Linked DNA regions of Homo sapiens. The protein of the gene in region 1 interacts with the protein of each later gene in a pairwise test. Each region holds a gene or a part of one and is shown on either strand. Other genes may lie near its edges.

Region 1 (3,500 bases):
TCTCGGTCCAACTATTAGGCCAGGATCCTGGGATCAGAAGGTTTGAAGACTGATTGCAACTTGGTTCAGATTCTTGGGACAGAGAGGATTGAGGGCTGCCCTGGTAGGAGTTAGGAAAACCCAAGGCCTGTGAAACCCAGCTCAGCATAATGCTTCTGCAGCTTCGTTGCGCTGTGGCTGGAGGAATGAATCCCATTATGTGGCATGGCGTGCCCTAGGTTGATGTTCAGAGACACTGTGGAGTCAGCTTGTTATAGCCTGGTGGGGGCCAGGCAAGCCTCTCCCAGTCACAGTAAAGCTGCTCTGGGCCTAGGCTTGGTGTCTCGGTGTTCTCACCTGCCTCAGCACCCACTCCCAAAGCACATCCCTGCGCAGCTTCCATCCTGAGAACCTGTGCTCATGGAGACGCTCAGCACTGGTCTCCCCTCAAGAGCCTCCTCATTTCTTTTCAGGGATTCCCACCTGCAAGGCCATTGATTGCATTTCCAAGGTGTTCAGCAGCTGATGCACATAAAACCCGGGCTGAGCCTTAGCAGAAGCTCTTTAGAATCAGCTAAGACTATTGGGGACCCCTTATTCCTCCCAAGGGGCCCAATGCTAGAATATTCTCTGAGGTCTCCCACTTTCTTAATTGACCGAGTGGGGTTGCACAAGTGAATCCATACAAAAATGGTTAATATCTTTATACTCCCTCTTAGAATTGATCATATGCAAAATAATTCATACAGAACTCTGTGTTTCAAAGCTGGTGGAAAAGATTTGCACTCTGTTCATTTCGGGTGGGAAGATAAGGCACCTCATTCAGAATGGATGCTCCACTAGCAGGTAGCTCATGTCTTGGAAATCACGCTGCAGGCTCGGCCCTCCAACAAGCCACATAGAATTATTTACCCTAAGGTACTTGGAGTTTTAAAATAAATTGATCCAATTAAGTCACACAAATAGAATTTCTCAAATCCATCTAGCCTGCAGCCACATTTCTCTGGCTCTCTGTGCCAAATAGGATCCTGGCATTACTGCTTCCTATTTCTCTCCTTCCCTTTTGCTCCCTACAGCAGTAATTTTGTGGGAAGTGGCCTAGTATCTTTAGCATCTGAGGGCCGCTGCCACTTCTCAGAGCAAGAGAGATCCTCTCAGGGTATTCCTCTGGGCTGCTCATGGTGGAGGTCATGTCGCCCCGAAGGAGAGACCATGGAGGATGTTCCCCAGAAGCAACAGCGGGAGGTGGTGTTCCCGGTCTCTCCTCGTCTATCTACAATGCAGCATTTGACTATATCCTTCCCATTTTATACCTTGTGTCCCGGGCAGCTCACTTTGGAGGCTTATTGAGAACTTGAGTTGGTGCACGTCATTTTGCTTGAAGCAGATGTGGCGGTCACGCAATGCCTTTCTTCCCAGGTACCAGCCAGAGCAGCCTAACCTGGTATACCAGATGGCCAGTACTTCCGACGAGTTAGATCCAGCAGACCAAAATGAATTGGCAAGCACCAATGATTCCCAGCTGGGCTTTTTACCAGAGGCAGAGATGTTCTCTTTGAAAACCATACTCTCACCCAAAAACATGGAGCCTTCCAAAATCTCTGGGCTAATTGTGAACATTTCAACCAGCCTCATAGGTAAGAGCTAGCCCTTCCCTGGGGCCTTGCTTGTTGGCATTGCATGGTTTCTAGGCAGTGGAGCTGGAGTTGGGGGAAGGTGCCAGAGAAGATGAGCATCTGTCTTGCTCCTGGACTGGGACATAGTTACTCTGTGTTAACTGTAGTTGTGCCTTCGGAAATGGAGCCTCTCTCTCCACAAGTTTAGGGGAGAACAGTGGATGCCTGTGGGAAATTGGGAAATGGTTGAGTTGCAGCTTGCTGTCTTTTCCTTCCCCCTTAGCTGTTCTCATCATCACCTTCTGCATTGTGACCGTGCTTGGAAGGGAGGCTCTCACCAAAGGGGCGCTGTGGGCAGTCTTTCTGCTCGCAGGGTCTGCCCTCCTCTGTGCCGTGGTCACGGGCGTCATCTGGAGGCAGCCCGAGAGCAAGACCAAGCTCTCATTTAAGGTGAGCAGCTCGGCCTAGGGAAGGAACCCTGGTACACAGACCCTGGCCCTCCTGATGCCTGGCCAGCCCTGCGTGGGCTCAGCCGGGCCTGGGTGCTCCCGAGGAAGGTTTTTGCTAGCCAGCTTCAGGTAAGATGGGGCAGGGGTCCTGAAGGCACAGAGAGGACCAGACCCTGGAAGGAGGCAGCAGCCCTTCTCCCCTGGACGTTTCCCTGAGTAGTCAAGGGCAGGCTGACACCTTCCTGCATGACACAGGCCAAGAGAGACCTCGCCAGTCCCTGGATATTCGGCATCTATTTCTGAATTCTCTGGAAAATAAATGTCCCTTGTGATCAGTGTTTTATGAAATGTGCTGCCTCTTCCCCAGACAGTATCAAGGGTGCTGCTCATGAAGCCACTTGCCCCTAAGTTTATACATAATAGCAGACCCAGTGGAGCAGTCCCTCCGGGGTGGTGGGATGCTTCTCGTAAATGTCTGCTCAAGTTGATGCATGAGTTTTCCAAGCCTTGGAGACGGGCAAGGCTTCTGCATTTTTAGATTACACAAATAATAAAAAAGGTTGTTGACCTTAGAGGTAAAGTGGAGGTCCGTCTTCTAGTCCTTTCTTTAGCAGGAGAATCGCAACAGAGAAAAATGAGAATGGAGTTCATTTGGCCATTCAGAGCTTAGAATCAAATCCCCACCTACTAAGATGTACCCTTGGGTGTGTTTGTGTGTGTGTTTGGGTGCGGGCTGTGTGTGGGGTGTGGGAGTGGGGGTGGGCACTCCCTCTCTCTTCCCCACACTCGCCCGACGGTCCCTGTCACTCTCAGTTGTGCTGCCTTTACTAGACAGTTTTACTGAACTATTGGAACCGGCGCCACTGCCATGGATTGAAGCCACCTCCTGTCTCTTCAGGTTCCCTTCCTGCCAGTGCTCCCCATCCTGAGCATCTTCGTGAACGTCTATCTCATGATGCAGCTGGACCAGGGCACCTGGGTCCGGTTTGCTGTGTGGATGCTGATAGGTATGTGATGCTGCTGCCAGCACGTCCAAGATCCTGGCTTCCCCTGGGGGTCTCCCTTGTTTCAGATTTCATAACAGAATGACGCACATCCAGTCAGCAGCTTTCTCGAAGATAATGCTGAATCCCTGGTAGGCTGTGAGTCCTCTCCTCCCTGTTAGATACTTTTTGTTTCCATTGCTTCTTGTCCAAACTATTTATTCTTTTGGGCAAGACCTTGATATTAACAGGAACAAGGTGATGAGTCTGCTGCAGATAAGGTACCAGTTATTTTCACCCCAGACAGGAAAGTCTGGCCTGTGCCTCCTGGCCCCCTGGCCTGCCCAGCACCAAATTGGTACGGGCACTAGGCCCAGGCAGGGTGGATGTCATGGGCTCCTCTGTGATTGCGTCTTCTCTGTGGAGGGAGAGTGCTTTGGAGCCTATGGGAGATGCCACTAGGGTGGGGAGCT
Region 2 (2,920 bases), on another chromosome or scaffold:
ACTTTACACTTAGCTTGGCAATGCAAAGAAATAACTAGCTTGATTTCTTTACAATCTGGCTGCCTAAATCCACTAGTAAAACATCAGATCTTTCCCAAATGTTTTGTGCATAAGGAGGACATATTATTCCTTAAAGACTACTTTCTATTAGTGCATTCTTTTCTGTAGTGTGCAAAAAGACTCTTCAAAATATGTAGAGCACTTTTCTTAAGGTGTCAGGTTTTTTTCTTTTCCAATACAGCTTTTCCAATCTTCCATGTCCACCATGGGGAGTGTCAGCCACAGAAATTAAGGCCTGGATTCCTTCCAGTCAGCACAACATTCCTGAACTGTTTCTCTTCAACTACAGCAAGTACAGGCTTCAAACTGGTCAGATTCACATTAAGATTATACAGACAAAAACACTGGGAAAATTAACTTGCTGATCTCCTTTCCAAATGTAACGTACCGCAAAGTAAAATATAAACTTTTTCATTTAATAATGTACATAAAAGCCTTTGTTAAAATGTCAATAACAAGTTTTATTTACAAAGTAATCGTCCTCTCACATCACATTTGGGGTTACATGTATCACTGTTGTACGCTGGTAGCATGGCTATTTGAAAGATTATAATTTATGAGCTATTACTCAGTGGGATTTTTGCAATAAGGTACTTCATGAGACAAAATGGAAAAAGGAGAATTAAATTAAAATGCACAACTAATATTTATCTACTACAGACATAATATTTCTCAGTTGTGAACTAATTACTATGCTTGGAAAATGCTAGCATCCTCATAAATATTTTGGTTCTATTGGGATACAAAATCTGATTTCGCAAACTTTGCAAAGGCACATTTTGGCTGGGCACAGTGGCTCAGGCCTGTAATCCCAGCACTTTGGGAGGCAGAGGCGGGCGGATCATGAGGTCAGGAGATCGAGACCATCCTGGCTAACACGATGAAACCCGTCTTTACTAAAAATACAAAAAAATTAGCCAGGCGTGGTGGCGGGAGCCTGTAGTCCCAGCTCCTTGGGAGGCTGAGGCAGGAGAATGGCGTGAACCCGGGAGGCGGAGCTTGCAGTGAGCCAAGATCGCACCACTGCACTCCAGCCTGGGCAACAGAGCGAGACTCTGCCTCAAAAAAAAAAAAAAAAAAAGAAAAGAAAAGGCACATTTTGTGACACCACCTAAGCATTTCCCTGAGAACATAAAGAAGGTTATTAACATAATGAACTATTTCAGCCTTGAAAACAGTATTCATTGAGGAGATACCTCAGAGGTAAGGACTTCCTTAGGACAGTAAGAAAAATCTATGAGTTCTTAAGTGGAAGAAAAGAAACAACTATGAAAAGCAGGACCAGCTCAGAACTCCTCCTGAGGAAGAGATGAGGTATGACAGGATTTTCCCTGTCCCAAAATATTGCTATCCTTCTATAAGCTGCTGGAATCTTTCTTCATTCCGTTCTCCCATTCTCTGTGAATGAGAATCAGTGGGTTATGAGGCATTCTCTAAAAACGCAGGTGCAGCAGTCATGGGAATGGCAGTCGGCCCAATGCAGGTGTCAAAAGGAATTTCAGATGTGGAGAAGATAATCACAAGGCATTCTTTCTGTGATGAAGTGTGATCTGCTTTCTTCTCAGCACCACATGACATCAGCTGTACTTAGAGAACTGACTAATGGGAGGAGAAGGGTGGGTGACTCTGGAATATGAAGAACCTCAGGAGGGAGGATGGAGCCCAGTGGGAAGGTTCTCAGTTGGGAGAGGTGAACAAAACTCCCAGGAGTGTACCTGGATCTCAAGGGCATTAGGAGGTGAAAATGAGTGGAAAAATTAAAAGGAGAAAGACCTTGTTCTTAGGAAAAGGGGTGGAAAGTTGCACTGTCCTTCCTCCAAACTACTCACACTACCCTGTCTCAGAGACCCAAAACTCAGGCAGGCACCTTCAGTATCACAGGTTAGGTATATTAGAGTTGAACCTGTTGAGGGAGGCTTGGCCTGGGAACTCAATCACCAATTCATAGTATTGTTTCTGTGGAAAAGTGTCTCAAAGTCTGCTTGTAACCCACTTGTTTGAAACATGATAAAGAATCCCTTCATAAGATTATTTACTTGTGGCCAATTTTGGAAGTGCAATCTCAGTTTTCGACTATAGTCACTATGCTCTGAATCTCCAAATATATTGTACAATATATAAAAAAAGAGCCTTTTATAAGGAAAAAAATGTCCAACATTTGTGTCACCATGATCAAACTTTTGTATTATATATTCAGATATAGCAATATTTCCTATTAATATTTACTGTTTAAATGATATTTAGGCACTGCAGAATAGCTCTCTTTTCAGACATAGAGCAAATCTAATAATCTATCACTTCAAATACTCTATATGCAAGTACTTTATATCAATCTAAAGATACAATCAAGAGGTAATGCTTTAAGGCTACATATGAAGGCTACCTTGGTTATTGAAAATGTGTATAAGCAACAAAAACACTTTTGCAAAATGTAGTAGAAATGAATCATTATTGCCATCTTAGAAAGAAAAGCTATTGCACACCAACTAGACATTCAAGATGGTATCCTAAAACTTATTGCTACTGTTCTGTTAGGACAGATTATTGCTCAAAACTGCCCATTTTAAAACATCAAGAAATTCTCTCATTTTTGTTATCTTTTCAGGCAAGGCAACATCACAAAAAAATTTTAAAGTTAAACTTTTAAAGTTAAAAGTGAAATTTATTACAATACAATAAATGCAAGTGTCATTATTAAAAATGCCGGTTAAAATTATAAAGTATCTAAATAATTTTTCTAATATAAATATTGGAAATGACAACTTTAACAATTCTATATGTACACAGGACACTGAAAACATAAAATCATGAACAAGGCCAAAAAATAACGTTGCACATTAACCCTTTAGTTATTACTTTC
Region 3 (3,500 bases), on another chromosome or scaffold:
CAGCACACCAGGCTAATTTTTGTATTTTTAGTAGAGATGGGGTTTCACCATATTGGCCAGGCTGGTCTTGAACTCCTGACCCCAAGTGATCTGCCCGCCTCGTCCTCCCAAAGTGCTGGGATTACAGGTGTGAGCCATCACGCCTGGCCTATCAGATCCCTTTTCAAGATAAGCGCCTATCAGAGGAAACTTGAAAGCAATAGGATATTCATGGAAGAAAGATGAGAAGTTCTGGAACAGAGGAAATGCCTCATGAGCGTCTTTGGGTAGGGAAGAGTGTGGCCTGGGCCACTGGAAGTGTACTGACATCTTGGAAGAAGGTGAACAAAGGCTGAAAAGGAACTTTACTAGCATCACTGCTCTGCTGAGACAGATCTTGAACAATTGTTAAGCATTACATTATGCATGCATTTTTTTGCATACCACATTTTATTTAACCTAATTGCAACCTTATTATTATGGGGAAAATAAAATCTGGGGAAATTCAATATTTGTCTGAGATGGTGGCAGGTGTGGGAGTCAAACCTAAATTGTGATAGTTCCAGAGCCCTTTGATTTTCTATATCAGAATATTTTAGATTAGGAAAATATTATATATTAGACACCTATTGATTCCAGATTTCAGGATGCCTAAATAAGTTCCAGATAGAGGCAGTAAAAAGGGTAGGGAGAGATTATGTATTCTGACAAGAAATCCACATGGCCTGTGGTATTTGGATGTAGACAGGGTCCTGCCTTTTGATAGGAAAAGCTCTAATTCCCAGGTACAGCTTATCAAAGTGTACTTGGCAGGTGATAAAATCCAAACAGAATTCACAAACCAAGTTAGCAAAAGTAAACACTTCACTGTCTGGTGATAAATTGAAGCAAGGTTATTTTTAGAGAGTCACACATAAAAAAAAAAAATCCCCAAACCATCTTTTATATCTCTTCCAGACTGCCTTTTTCTTTCCAAAAAGCTTCTAGACCAGAGCACTGGGAATGTTCTTGTAAAATTCAGCCATGGAAAAAACAGGGTTTTGTTCTATGACAAAGTCTCCTTGACTGTGACATAGAAATGAACTCTATTTTTATTAGTCACTTCTATATGTGGTCCATTGAAGTGGAAATTTTTTTTTTTTTGCTCTTATGTTTAACATGAACCAATTCTTAGGCTGCTTATATCCTTTTCTAATTTTTAATGTATGAAATCTCAATACTAGTCTCCATTGTTTTCCCCAGGAGACAATTTCTTTCTAATAGTCCGCAACTATGTTAGGTTTAGGGCTGGCATCACCATTCCATGATTCTCCCTTTAGTGGGCTTTCTGAGTTGAAGAGTCCCTGGTCCTATTAATCCCCATAGGACATTTTGAGACACTGGAGCTCAAACTTCTTAGTTGGGATTAGAGGATTCAGCCACAGATGGTTGCTAGTTTCTGATTCTAGTTGGTTATTTCTGCCCACCACCATTGGTGCATCTGTCTTCTATGGAGGCTGCTGCCCTAATCAACTAGGGTAGGGTGGGTTGTTGGATTTGGAACTATGAATACCAAACACATCTTACAGAATCCAAGCCTGGGAATGCATGCTGTGAAAGCACAGAATTGAATATGGACTTGGCTGACAGATAGATCTGCTTTACCATTTACTATGGGTTTTTGTGAGGCTGGGTCAACTTTAGGTTATTTTCCTTAATCATTTTGAGTATAAACTTGCTATTTTTAGATCAAGGTAAAACACTGAAAAAGAACACTTGGCTGGTAAGATTGCATCAGAAAATTGTATATTTTTAGAGGGCCTGCTTTAATATTCTTATTATTTATACATCAAAATTGTAATAGTCTGTAACTATTACAAATAAACTGATCATTATTAATAATAAATTAATATATTTCTTGATTTATTTGTTTCATTTTTTTTCCCAAGAAAGAGAAACAAGTTCATATAGATTTGTTTTCACACTTTACATAGGAGGTAGGGAGGAATTAACACTTACCTGCATTTTACCAGTAGAGAAACTGAGGCCCAGGCACCACAAAGAATATATCTCAGGTCATACTAGCTGGACTTTCACAGAGATGTTAGTAGAAGCCTGGCCTCTTGATTCTGCAATCCAGGCTTATTGGCAGGAACCCAACCAAGAGCATCCAGCACGTGTTTACCTGCATGGCGAGGCCAGTACTGTAGATGTCTCCAATGATGCCATTATCTTTGATCTTCATGCTGATTTTCTCCACAATATCCTTTAGTACCTGACCAAACAGGGATCTGTAACCTTCCTCTGAACCTACAGGGATCTTGTTGTACATACAGGTCAGAGCCAAGGTTGCCATTGCTCCTGTGTCTGTGAATGACAGAGGGTATAAGATCACCATAGTCACCATCACAGCAATATGAACAGCTAACATTTATTGTGTGCTTATTATATTCTGGCTCCATGATTTTATTTGCTCCTCAGAACAACCTGTGAAACAGTACCTGTAATCATCTCCATTTAAGAGACAAAAAATGGAGGCTCAGAAAAATTAAGTAAGCAGCAGGGCCAAATCTCCATTTGAAAGTTGCATAACTTCGTTAAGGGTGCTAGTGTTACTGACAACCAGAAGTAAATAAGTCCAAATTTTTGGAGGCAGAGATGCCCCAGAAATGTGTGAGGTCCCAGATGTGAAAGGGAGACCAGTCTGTTCTTAACCCCCAGGGAGGATCCTAGAGCAGTGGTTCACCTGTTTGTCTGACAGAAACTGAAACAAGAGAGGTTGCTGATGGGGCATGCATAAGGGAGTGAAAACCTGAGATAATACTATTGCTTAGAGAGTTGGCAGAGGAGAAAAGGTGATCATGAATGCGGGCTGTGACAGTGGCCCCCACAGAGAAGGATCATTATCCATAGAAGGGGACAGAAGGAGGACATGATGTTGTAGAGGGAAAAGCTTCTATTCACAAGCAGCCATATGCTTGCAGAACAAAGACGCAAGGTGGTCCCCGAGTTGCCATGAAGGGAAATATCACGAGTTAGGGTTCCGAGAGTAGCTGTTTAATGGAGAGAGGATATTTGGATGTAATGAGGAGAAGCATCGAAAAGAATGGAGTGTGGGAGCATCAGTAGTGATTAAAGAGAGGATGCAGAGGAGAACTGAAGCAAGACATTCATATTTAATTTGGGAAGAACTTCTGACTTGAATGGCATTACTATTGTTCCCAGCGGAGATTCTGTAGCTGCCAGACATATCAAGTATTATCAATTGTCCTTGTTTCTACATAATACTACCCCCTCTTCCTTCACTTACTCCTCAATTCACCTGCCCAACAAACATCTGGTAAATATCTCCCATCCACAGGCACGTTCACATCCTTAGCTCCTCCTCCATGGGACGCTCTCCTTTGTCACTTCCCTGCCAGCTCCACCATTCAGTTCACGATGCCTCTGATGTTCCCAGCTCGGGGTAGTGGTGACCTACTCACCTACATTGAAGGGAGAGGAGTTGGCCAGCAGGGTCTTGGCAAAGCGGACGGCTATCG
Region 4 (3,500 bases), on another chromosome or scaffold:
AGGTACTTAACCTCTAGAAATTTTACTGACAGAGTTTCCTGGGAACACAGCTATTCAAATACCAAAATGTTGCTCAACCTTTCCTCTAATTCTTGCTTCTGCCACCATTTGACGTATCTTACTGGGGCAGGGTTCCTTTGGTTGCAAGGCTTACCCAGAAAGCTTCCTGAACTACATCCAATAGAACACTCCTGGGGTAAAGGTCTCCTTCACTACTTCCCAAATTCCTCTTGGCTGCCCATCAGAAATTCCCCAGCACACAATCAGCATTCCACAAACAAAGCAAAAGGCAGGCTTTATGGATTTGGGTACCTGCCTCAAATAATTTACCACTTCTGAGCCATGAAGTGACACTACCTTTTATTTTACTAAATGACAATGAGATTCTTAAGGGAGAGAAGATTATGTCTTTCAGCTCTCTCTCTTTGCTCCCAAATAAATAAAATCCAGCTTTGACAAAAGTAGTCCCTACTTCTGTGTATGATATTGCTCTCCTCAAATTGTACTGCAATTTCTCAACTGCTCTTTTTTTTCTTTTTAATGTGTCCAGGGATGGGACAATGACAAAGCATTCACAGATTAACTTGAAGCCATTCTCCAATGTTTCATTAAAATCCTTATTCGGCTGCCTGTGCTATTCCAATCTTCCTTACATGGCAAAAATCAATATTTTAATGAGAGTAACACACAAGGATAGTCACATAAAGGGCTAGTCTGATCATACCAAAAGGACTTCCCTGAGTCCCAAACACCAGACGGTAGCTTAGAACACTCTGAGGTGGTGCTGAGGGTCCACTTGGCTCACTTAAAGCTCCCCTGGATAGTTGTACAGCCTAACTTCTGCATCCAGATGTTTCCACGAAGGAACAAGCCTCAAAACCATCTCCAGCCAGGGCAGCTGACCCTCCATACAATGCTCAGCGGAGCTCACACAATGCTCAATGGAGAAATTAAAGAGCCTAGAGGGAAGTAACATAAAAACAATTTTTTTTTTTTTTGAGACGGAGTCTCACTGTGTTGCCAGGGTGGAGTGCAGTGGTGCCATCTCAGCTCACTGCAACCTCTGCCTCCCAGGTTCAAGTGATTCTTCTGCCTCAGCCTCCTAAGTAGCTGGGACTACAGGTGTGTGCTACCACGCCCCGGTTAATTTTTGTATTTTTAGTAGAGATGGGTTTTTACCATGTTGATCAGACTGGTCTCGAACTCCTGACCTCAGGTGATCCACCCACCTTGGCTTCCCAAAGTGCTGGGGTTACAGGCATGAGCCACCGTGCCTGGCCCATAAACGCAATCCTCTTGCTCATTACACAATGTATATACGTACTAAAACATCACACTGTATCTCATAAATATATCCAATATTATATATCTATTAGAAACAAAGTAAAACTTAAGCTGGGTGCAGTAGTGCACACCTGTAATCCCTGCTACTTGGGAGGCTGAGGTGGGAGGACTGCTTCAGCCTAGGAGTTTGAGTCTAGCCTGGGCAACATGGTGAAACCCCACCTCAAAATGACAACACACACACCCACACACAAAAACTTTAAAAATGTAATTATCTGTTTCTATGATAGGACAGAAAAGGAGAGTCATGGGATTTCTTTGGGTTCAGACTACATTTTCAGAATGCTAGTTCCAGTCCACTTCTACATTAAACAGATGCTAAAATCTGTTTGAGCGCCAAACCTTCATGACAGCCAGATTTAAATTACACTTAAAAGAAGGAACAGAAACCTAGGTAATGAAAAGTAACTATCCCCCGACAATTGCATTGCATATTCAGTAGATTGTTCCCTAAGGGCTAAAAACAAAAAGTTGAATAGAAATCATATTATTTATCCAGCACTTGATTACTGGTTCAAGTAAGGCAAATAGCAGCAAGCAGGTCCTAGAGTGGGTCTTTCACAGTACCTCACAGTCCATAGTCTTCAATATTCATCAATGTTGCTGGTGGAATATTTGGAGAGTGGAAGCTAACTATATGTTAGGAGGATGGAAGATCTGTCCCTTTAAGAGATAAATATGTTATAATCCAAATATATTCAACTGTATAGTTAAATAGCCATAGTTTGGCCATATAAAATATTCAAGTTTTAGATGTCGTTTTTATTCCAACACTTTGGTAAACTGTTGGTACTGAAAACAATTGCTTAATACATGGCTGCACTGGCTGGGAGTGGGGGAGGGAAGATCAGCAGGATGCTCAAGTTCCAGTGAATGGTTCTTGGTTATAGAGCACAAGCTTGCACTCACACGAACTCTGTTGAAACTCTGTTAAAGCCAAATAAGCAAATTACCTGCTTTCTTCTTCTCTGGAGTGTGCCTTCTGTGTAATAAGGCACTAAACACACATGCCTGATGAAATCTCCTCTGAGAAAAAACTGGTAATTCTGTTCTTCAGGAATCTAAGAATACTAGATTTATAACAAGACAGAATAAATTCCAGGTTCCCCTGCAGGTATAAGGACAAACTTTCCCAGATTCTTGACACAGAAGGTTCTGTGGGAGATACCTAACCTAGAAGCCCTGGGCTTTGCTAGACCCTTTGGAGCTGAGCTTCCCAAGAGATGTGATCCCAGGGACAACCCACTGGATGTTTCCCATGGTCTGCAGGCAGCAACCTCAGAGGGCGGGGTGGAGGGGGAGGGGAATGGTGAGAAGCCATGGGATACAGAAGGAAAAATAAAGACAACATCTCATAATGCATTAAATGAAGCTGATATGATAAATTCAATGTCGGACAAAGCATTTTACCTAAATGGGATGCTTGCCTCAAGTCCATAGCTATCATCTTCAGTATTTTCTCAGAATGATTCCTTCCCTTATTCATCCTTTACTAAATGCCATGTTCCACTCAAGGGGCAGGGCTACTATGAGAATGATCAAGAATGAGAAGGAAGGTCCTGACTCTCTAGAATACACAGTTGAGAGTGGGGGGGAGGGAGGGAGGGAGAGGGAGGGAGAGAGAGGGAGGGAGGGAGAGAGAGAGAGAGCGCATGATTGAGAGAGAGCACGAGTGAGCATGCAGTCAGGGAAGACAAAAACACAGCAGGACCATACCATAAAACATAAGGGTGACATTGCGACAAAGGATCTGAAGAGCATAAAGTGATATGTGAGAGAGAACACAGGTAAAGAAAACAGCAAGAGCAGAGACTTGGAGACAGAAAAAGGCTTGACTTGTATGAAGGAGAGAAAAGAGTCCAGTGTGTCTGAAGGGTAGTGATATAGACTAGAGGAAGAAAAGTAGGAGAAATCAATTATTATTACTTATTACCACCGTGCACAGTATTTAGTAAGGGGCAAACCTTGTTCTAAGCAGTTAGTTCATCAGTATTAACTCATTTAGATCCTCACAGCATCCCTATGATATTACTCCCATTTTGCAGATGAAGAAACGCAGTACCAGAAAGGTTAAGTGACCTGCCCAAGGTCACACAGCGATCACAGAGCACAGCCAGATCCCCACACCCCCAAGCAGTCTGGCTCCAGTTTGTGCT

The links. Proteins that work in one complex are often made in the same cells at the same time.
Region 2: the proteins of SLC7A1 (region 1) and LEPROT interact in binary tests that used the Homo sapiens proteins (3 or more experiments, as listed by UniProt).
Region 3: the proteins of SLC7A1 (region 1) and CBLIF interact in binary tests that used the Homo sapiens proteins (3 or more experiments, as listed by UniProt).
Region 4: the proteins of SLC7A1 (region 1) and MGST3 interact in binary tests that used the Homo sapiens proteins (3 or more experiments, as listed by UniProt).

The regions. Positions count from the first base shown.
Region 1 is NC_000013.11:29,515,689-29,519,188, reverse strand, and holds part of SLC7A1 (high affinity cationic amino acid transporter 1), read left to right. Parts: intron 1-1,398; coding exon 1,399-1,616; intron 1,617-1,878; coding exon 1,879-2,045; intron 2,046-2,942; coding exon 2,943-3,051; intron 3,052-3,500. UniProt on the Homo sapiens protein: High-affinity, low capacity permease involved in the transport of the cationic amino acids (arginine, lysine and ornithine) in non-hepatic tissues.
Region 2 is NC_000001.11:65,433,588-65,436,507, reverse strand, and holds the end of LEPROT (leptin receptor gene-related protein), read right to left. Parts: 3' UTR 501-2,920; downstream 1-500. UniProt on the Homo sapiens protein: Negatively regulates leptin receptor (LEPR) cell surface expression, and thus decreases response to leptin. Negatively regulates growth hormone (GH) receptor cell surface expression in liver.
Region 3 is NC_000011.10:59,839,000-59,842,499, forward strand, and holds part of CBLIF (cobalamin binding intrinsic factor precursor), read right to left. Parts: coding exon 3,444-3,500; intron 2,326-3,443; coding exon 2,144-2,325; intron 1-2,143. UniProt on the Homo sapiens protein: Promotes absorption of the essential vitamin cobalamin (Cbl) in the ileum. After interaction with CUBN, the CBLIF-cobalamin complex is internalized via receptor-mediated endocytosis.
Region 4 is NC_000001.11:165,634,234-165,637,733, reverse strand, and holds part of MGST3 (glutathione S-transferase 3, mitochondrial), read right to left. Parts: intron 1-3,500. UniProt on the Homo sapiens protein: Displays both glutathione S-transferase and glutathione peroxidase activities toward oxyeicosanoids, as part of cellular detoxification as well as synthesis of bioactive metabolites.